Homo sapiens: one gene and its partner. The protein of the gene in region 1 purifies or fractionates together with the protein of each later gene. This does not show direct contact. Each region holds a gene or a part of one and is shown in the gene's direction. Other genes may lie near its edges.

Region 1 (4,534 bases):
TATATTTTAGGAGAAGAGAGGAAAGTGGCAAAAGGAGGCACAGATACAAATTTATACAGATCACCAGCTAAGTTTGGCCACAGTGGTTTGCCAAAGAATTTCAATAACTAATACTTAGAGTGCTTACTGTGCACCCTGCTAAGCACTTCACATGCTTTATTTCACTTTATCCTCAAAATAACCCAAGGAAATAGCTATCATTGTTATCCCCAGAGACCAAGATCTCATGGATAGTGAATGTCAGAGCCAGGACTGGAACCATAGAGGAGTCTGTGTTGTAACCACTGAACAACTGACTTTCTACCCTGCTTTAAAATGTTGCCTGTTGTTTGTTGTTGTTGTTTTTGAACGGTGGTGGCCAATCTGCCTCCACAATCCAGACATAATTTCGGCACTAAACAGAAATACTTTAGTCTATACAAACTTCATGTAAGTAGTTCCTGCATGAAACTATTTCCCAAGTAATACAGCACCGATTTACACCTGGCAGAAGGCATAGTTTTGATGTGAACAGTTGGGGGAAGCTTGTTTCTCTACACCCTCAAGCACGCCCACAGCAGGAGCTGAGCAGCAGGCCAGACGGCACAGAGCCCTCCTGGGACTGGTTATTTACATTAACCAAGGTGGAAACTTCTCCCGGAGATAGGTGCTGCCAAGAACCCTAGAGGAAGTAAGACGCTTTATCTTTTGCACGCACGCCAAGTCTTCAGAGGGCCTGGATGGGTGTGACTCCAAGGAGCTAATCGTCCCGTGCAGGTGCAAATCTAGACCCGTGTTTATGTGGAGGTGTAGACGCAACTGGAGATGACCCGGTTAGTGGCTGACGTGCGTGGGAAAGCCCACCAGCAGCGTTGTTGGTTGGGTTGTCTCTGTAAGTGTGGACAGTGTGTTGGTGGGCACCCAGTTCCGATTGCCCCGTCTAGACAGGGGTGTGCGGGCACTCAATGTTCCACGCGCGGCCGGGAGCTCGCAGTGTGGTCCACGCCAGTGCGCCTGGAAGCCCAGGGGATCTGTCCGGCACTCCACTGGAGGCTTGGCCCGCGGCTTCGCCCACCTCCCCAGAGCCCCGCTCAGCCCCCGCTCCCCCCGCTCAGCCCCCGCTCAGCCCCCGCTCAGCCCCCGCTCAGCCCCCGCTCAGCCCCCGCTCAGCCCCCGCTCAGCCCCCGCTCAGCCCCCGCTCCCCCACTCGGCCCCGCCCCCAGTGCCCTGGCAGGCCCCGCCCCCAACGCCGGGCGCTCCCGTCGGCTCGGCGGCCTCAGTTCCGTAAACACTTCTCACCCCGCCCCCGGCAGCCCGGACCGCACCACTCGCCGCGCGGGGGAACCGTGCCCTCTCGCATCCGAAACACCCTCCCATCCGAGCTGTTCTCGGCCTCTCTGGTTCAAACTGACGAAGACTGTTTCTCTAATAGGTTCAGTCTGTGAGCGCTCGGCTTTCGGAGACTGAAGGGCCCTGGATCCCCTTGCCCCGTCGCGCCGTCGTCCCCCCGCTATCCGGTTTTGTGATGGCCGCGCCGTGGCTGCCTCCCTAGAGTCCCTCAGGGCCCTTTAAATACCGCGTTGGGGGGGACACTGGGGCTGGGGGGGTTTGTTGGGCTGGTGAGTTTTCGAGGTGACTGTGCTGTGCTCGGTGAGGGGACGCCCAGAGAGCCCTGACCCGGGGTCACTCCGTCGCCGTTCTCCTCTTGTCTACGTGCTGGACCCGGTGCGTATCCATCACGGGGGAGGCGTTGCCGGCTCGGAGGTGACCGGCCAGGTCCAACGGAGGGGACACCGCTGCAGCCCGAAGGCTCCCCTGCCCTATCTCGGAACTCCATCCTGGGAAGGCGGGGTCAGGGGCCATCAAGCTCGGCTCCTAGTTCATGTCTTCCCACTCCGCGTCCCCTTGTTTGACCTCGAACTGCCGTCCCGCGTGGGAGCGGGGAGCGGGGCACCGAGTGGCCGCCCCGCGTGTCGGGGTGGACACGGACTTCGGGCCTCGGAGGCCGCTTCGCCGCTGTTTAAATCCTGCTGGACAGGTACCAGCGGCATCCCGCCATCAGGGGCCCAGGGCACCCCCTTCCCCCACACTCCTCGGCCGGGCTGGAGTAGGGAACTGAGCCAGGGTAGAGGCAGGGCGGGCCCGGCAGCGTGTGTTTGGGATTTGTTGCCGTGGTTTCCCCGGCACTCAGCTCTGCCTCCGCCGTCCCCTCCCCCAAGGGTTTGTTTTGACAGGAAACCTGGTGCTGCTGGAGGGGAGGGGCGGCCAGAGGACGTGGGTGAGGTCGTGCAGACTGCTGCTGCGTCCCCTTGCCGGGACCTTTGGTTAAGGGGAAGAGGTGGAGAAAAGCCGATTGGGCCTGGGCTCGAACGCTGAACCCTCAGGTGTTGCTTGTGCTTCCCAAAGCTGCTACTGTAGGTGGCACCACTGGGGGTAATAGCAATGATTTGAGGTGGCATATGGATGAACATAGTTACTTGTTTTCGTTACTATTAAGAAAATCTGTTCCATTAAGTAAGCAGTTTCACAATGATAGAGTTTCCTTTTAAAATAAATATATTTAAATGCAAAAATCTAGTCAAGATAGAGACGCGGTTACTAAATTATAGTAAAGGTAAGGAGGGAGACGTAGAAATAGTCATGAAGAGTGGCACTCAAACGACTTAAGTTTGGGAAATCTTAGATGGTTGTCCTGCTACCTTAACTGTGAAGAAACTGGACAAGTTGTCCTTGTCCCCAGTGGGTGTCTCAGCACCCATGGTCACCAGCCCAGTCAGGGACTTTGCTCTTCTTACCTGCCAACGGATAATGAGTTAATCTCAGTGGTTCCCACTTGAGGAGGCTCCCTGCCGTGGTCCTTTTCCTCTCTTCTCTAGGGATTTCATGCATCACCCTGACAGCCAGTGGAAGTTGCCTGATTTGAAGAGGCCCAGGGCCGAAGATACCCAGTCATGTGTGGAAGCAGCTTCAATGCCATTTTGTGAGAGGTTGAGGGCCCCAGAGGGGGAAGCACAGGTATTAAAACAAAACAGACCAGCAAGTGTGGGAGGAGTGCTTTCAAATGTGAAAAGTGCCAGGAATCCTTCTCCCTGATGCTGTAATGCCACGTGTAACGTGAACATCTGCTTTGTGGACAGTGACTGGCTTGTTGGCTTTTATCTAGCTCTTTGTTGGTTCTAACTTGATGAAGACCAGTATTGTCTAGATGAATGGTATGGGCCCCTATCCCTCTGCTCTATGGTTTTTGCTTTGCTGTGGATGAATAACTTTAGTGCTGCTATTTAAGACTGATTCTAAAGCAGCATTTTGCAGAAGATGGAAATTTTTCACATCATCTGCAATTTTTTTCTTTAGAGCCCAGACTTAGTCCTCTGACTCCCTTCCCTTTACTACACATATGTGAAGGCTTGTCCTTGCAGCTGACCTCGATCTAGTGTTGAAGGATGGTACACACTAGAAGTTTCTTGAAATTTCTTTTTTGCGTGAGCTAACCTTAACTGGATGGGTTCAATTCCTCAAGGCCCTGCTGGGTAATCTGAATATTTCACTCCAAAATGTTTATGACTGTAAGCAGTTAACCTTTTTGCTAATACGTGGGGTCTAACTAGGGATTTTGCGGTGCATAAAGAATGGCTCCCTCCTAGAGGATTTTCTGTCACTGTAGCGGGGTGGTGAAGAATTGTTTTGGGTGACGTACTCCTTCAGTGATGCCCTTCACAGAATAGCACTTGAGCAGCCATACCAGGATAAGATCAGCTTGCTACCACATGTGCAAGTGTCCACAGGGTGATGGGTAGATGGATTTGGCAGAGTGGGAGTGGAAAGAATGAGCAGCACACCAAATTTTCTCCAGCCAAACTGGAGTGGTAGAGAGCATGGGTTTTAGGGATCCGCTTCCTGGATTTGAGTTGTGCCTCTACACTGCTGTGAACCCTTGGGCAAGTAACGCAACCTCTCTGGGCCTCAGGATCTTATTATAAAATGGGGATAATACTGATACATTAGCTAACAAGGTTATAATAAGGATTCAAGGAGATAAAATATATAAAGAACTTATCATAGAACAGTTATTGAGTGCTTATTACTACCTCAATAATAAGCACTCAATTACTGTTAGCTGTAATTGTTGTTATTTGCTACACGTGAGTTTCTTTAACCTCCTGGAACTGTGGGTCTTTGCTAGTTTGAATTTTTGGTGCCTTGCAAATGCACTGAAGTAGGCACTGGGAATTGGAGAGGAGAGTCATCGCTTCCACCAGCAGCTTAAAATCTAGTGGGAGACAGATATGCACACAAGTGTAGTACTGTAAGTGACTGCGTAATGGGAATATGAGTAATGTGAGTGAGGCAGAAAAGAAGGAAAACTCAAGGTGTCTTATGAATAGGAGTGTGGCGTAATTAGTTCATGCAGCTGTACTCACTGAGCTCCTGCTCTAGCCCTAGCGGTGTTCTAAGCTCTAGCTGGCTCATTAGATGCAGTGAGTGTAGCAATCAGGGAAGGTTACCTCGTAGTTGGTGACATTAAATTTCAAATCTGAATGACAATAGGGAGCCA
Region 2 (3,814 bases), on another chromosome or scaffold:
TTGCATTTTAGAGTCTTTCTTTTGTAATTTGTTTGTTTATATCATTTGCCTAGCTAGTGGATGTCTTAAGTGTTTTTTTTTAGAAAGTTGATGTATATAAAATCAATTTTTATCTCTATATGTTTGTTATAAAACTTTTACATTTTGGAACTGTTAAATCTATTGCATTTTGCCTTGTAAAATTTCCCACTAGTTTTAAGTTTAGTATATCCATCCTTATTCAGAGTGCATATGAATGGTAAAGATAACATTTTAAATTTATCTGCGATGAGTTTTAGTACTTGACAAGGCTATATATTGATTTTAGTTTTATTTCTTTCCAATAACTAGCTAATTTTATTTCTAGACAAGCCCACTTGATATATATAACTACACGCACACACACACACACACACACACATCTCACCTATATTGAAAGAATAAAGTAAAATTAGTTGTATTTTGATTTGCATTGTGTGTGTTTGTCTTAATTCAATTCTTAGCCAAGTACAGAGTAGGTGCTTAATTTATGTTGTTAAAATAAACTTTTTAATGGAATTTAAATCCCAGGTTTAATTTTCCCTGAAGCTTAGCTGTACCCTGGGTCTTGGTTTCCATGAAACGCTTTTGATTATCCTTATAACACATTCCTCCGTGGCCTTAAGCTAGCTTGGTTTCTGTCATTTGTAACCAGAAGGGCTGAGTAACAGATCTCCTGTTTTCTAAACACCTGCTCAGTTCCAACTCACCATGACTTATTTTAGAGGGAGTGCCTTTCCATCCACATCGGTCAAGCTGGCATCCAGATTGGGGACGCCTGCTGGGAACTCTATTGCCTGGAACATGGAATCCAGCCAAATGGCGTTGTTCTTGACACTCAACAGGATCAGCTGGAAAATGCAAAAATGGAGCACACAAATGCATCTTTCGATACCTTCTTCTGTGAGACAAGAGCTGGGAAGCATGTGCCTAGAGCACTCTTCGTGGACTTGGAGCCAACTGTTATAGGTACAATAAATGTTCCATTCTAGCATACTTAACTGGAGCCACACTCAAACAAATCAAGTGGATGGGATTAGCAGATTATACAGGTCTATCTGAATGGAATCACATGGACCTTTCCCAAATGTAGAGGCTTACTCAGTGGCCATGGGTGATTAACATGACAAACACACCCAAAGGGAAGACCAGATTAGTGTTTTTGAATTTAAATTTATTTATTTATTTATTTTGAGATGAGTCACTCAGGCAGGAGTGCAGTAGCGTGATCTGGGCTCACTGCAACCTCCGTCTCCTGGGTTCAAGCAATTCTCCTGCCTCAGCCTCTGAGTAGCTGGGATTACAGGCACACACCATCATGCCTGGTTAATTTTTGTATTTTTAGTAGAGATGGAGTTTCACTATGTTGGCCAGACTGGTCTTGAACTCCCGACCTCAAGTGACCCACCTGCCTTAGTCTCCCAAAGTGCTGGGATTACAGGCGTGAGCCACCACACTTGGCCTAGGTTAGCCTTCTTTACCTGTGTGATGAAATGAATTAAGACCTGCTAATTGATCCACACATATATCATAATAGAACACTAAGTCTTTTCCTGGGTTTGAGAGCCATTTGCTAGAAGGCACTGGCAAAGAATCAAAAAGTTTTTCGATAGCTGCTTAAAAAGAGTAGAATATTTGAAAAGAATCCTAAAGGAAAAAGAGGCCAAATATATACCCTAGTTATGGGAAAAACAGTACAATTTTATGATTACTAACAATAGACTTGTAGTATGTCATGCAAAAACTCTTGAAATGGAGCTAGAAAAATAAAGGAGAGAGAAGGGGCTCTTACTGACTTAAGAGAAAAGCTAGACAGTGGGGTAGATTTGGGTTTGATGTTGTGCATCCCATTATTTGTTGGCGTGTAATAAACTTCCCCTACATTTAGTGGTTTAAGGCAATAATGATTGCTGGTTTGTTCATGAATCTACAGTTTGGGTGGGGCTCAGAGGTGACAGCTCGCCTGTGCTCCATGTGGTACCAGCTTGGAAGGCTCAAGTGGGAACTGGGGCATCCACTTTGAAAGTCACTCATTTACATCGCTGCCCCTTGGTGCTGGCTGTTGACTGAGAGAGTGGGAGGGGTGGAGAAAAGGAGAGGCTGACGAATTCAAGGTCATGATAAGAAGGAATTGAATACAACCCCATAAACACTTCAGCTGGGTGATAGAAGTACAAAGATGAATAAATGTTGATTTTTGCCTTCGACGTGAAGATGCCTGTCTTGGTCAACTCGGACTGCTGTATTGGAACACCATGGACCCGGTGGCTTAGACAACAGTTGTTGATTTCTCACGATTCTGGAGGCTGGAAGTCTGAGACCAGGGTGCCTGGTGGTTGGCTTCTGGTGAAGGCTCTCTTCCCAGCTTGCAGATGGCTGCCTTCTCACTGTATTCTCATATGGCAGAGAAATAGTCTGTGTCTCTTCTTATAAGGGCCCTAATCCCATAATGAAGTCTCTACCCTTATGACCTAATTACTCACAAAGACTCACCTCCAGATACCATCACATCAGGGATTAGGGATTCAACGCATGAATTGTGGGGGGACACAGCCATTTAGTCCACAGCAGCTATTGTTTACTAGTTGGGGAACTGCACAGGTATTTTCCTCTAATTCTTTCAACACTCTGTCAGGAGACATTATTATCATCCTCAATTTATAGATGAGGAACTTTATAAATCTTGGGGAAGTCAAGGAACTTGCTTAAGATCACTGAGTTATTAGAGTAGAGCTGGGTTTGGTCCTAGGTTTGCCTTCTTATTAAATCTATTGTCTTTTAACAGGAAAGTAGCCTAATCTAGTGAATAAGAAAAAATAAATAGTTATAACAACACTGTTGAAATTGAGCCATATAAAATTGCCAGTATATGACTATTTTTTAATCTAAAAAAGTTAATTGTATTGTATATGATACAACTTAATAGACATTTCTACAACAAGTGTGTCCAATAATTTGACCTCCCTGGGACACATTGGAAGAAGAAGAATTATCTTGGGCCACACATAAAATATACTCACACTAACAACAGCTGATGAACCAAAAAAAAATATTGCAAAACGATCTCATAATGTTTTAAGAACGTTTACCAATTTGCGTGGGAATGCATTCAAAGCCATCCTGGGCTGCGGGATGGACAAGCTTGCTCTGCAAGGCAGAAGGAATGAATAACCGGGGAGTCATCCAATATGTTTGTTTGTTTGTTTGTTTTTTAGAGCGAGAGAGACTGGGTCTTGTTCTGTCACCCAGGCTGGAGTGCAGTGGCGTAATCATAGCTCAGTGAACTCCTGGGCTCAAGCAGTCTTCCCACTTTGGGGTCCTGAGTAGCTTGGACTACAGGCACATGTCACTACATGTGGATAAGTTTTTTTTTTTTTTTTTTTTTTTTTTTTGAGACAGAGTTTTGCTCTTTTTGCCCAGGCTGGAGTTCAATGGCACTATCGCTGCTCACTGCAACCTGTGCCTCCCGGGTTCAAGCAATTCCCCTGCCTCAGCCTCCTGGGTAGCTGGGATTACAGGCACATGTCACCATGCCCTGCTAATTTTGTATTTTTAGTAGAGACAGGGTTTCACCACGTTGGCCAGGCTGGTCTTGAACTCCTGACCTCCAGTAATCCACCTGCCTCGGCCTCCCAAACTACTGGGATTATAGGCAAGAGCCACTGCACCCGGCCAATTTTTTGTTTTTTATAGAGATAGGGTCTCACTATATTGCCCAGGCTAGTTTCAAACTCCTGACCTCAAACAATCCTCTCACCTTGGCCTCCCAAAGTGCTGGGATTCCAGGCATGAGCCA

What was found.
Region 2: the proteins of TCP11L2 (region 1) and TUBAL3 purify together in Homo sapiens (affinity purification with mass spectrometry; one large-scale study listed by BioGRID and IntAct). This does not show direct contact.

Annotation. Positions count from the first base shown.
Region 1 is NC_000012.12:106,301,238-106,305,771, forward strand, and holds the start of TCP11L2 (T-complex protein 11-like protein 2), read left to right. Parts: upstream 1-1,495; 5' UTR 1,496-1,704; exon of another isoform or gene 1,705-2,994; intron 2,995-4,534. UniProt on the Homo sapiens protein: Promotes the migration of muscle-derived satellite cells (MDSCs) during differentiation throught interaction with FMNL2 and therefore may participate in microfilament assembly.
Region 2 is NC_000010.11:5,398,017-5,401,830, reverse strand, and holds part of TUBAL3 (tubulin alpha chain-like 3), read left to right. Parts: intron 1-743; coding exon 744-987; intron 988-3,814. UniProt on the Homo sapiens protein: Tubulin is the major constituent of microtubules, a cylinder consisting of laterally associated linear protofilaments composed of alpha- and beta-tubulin heterodimers.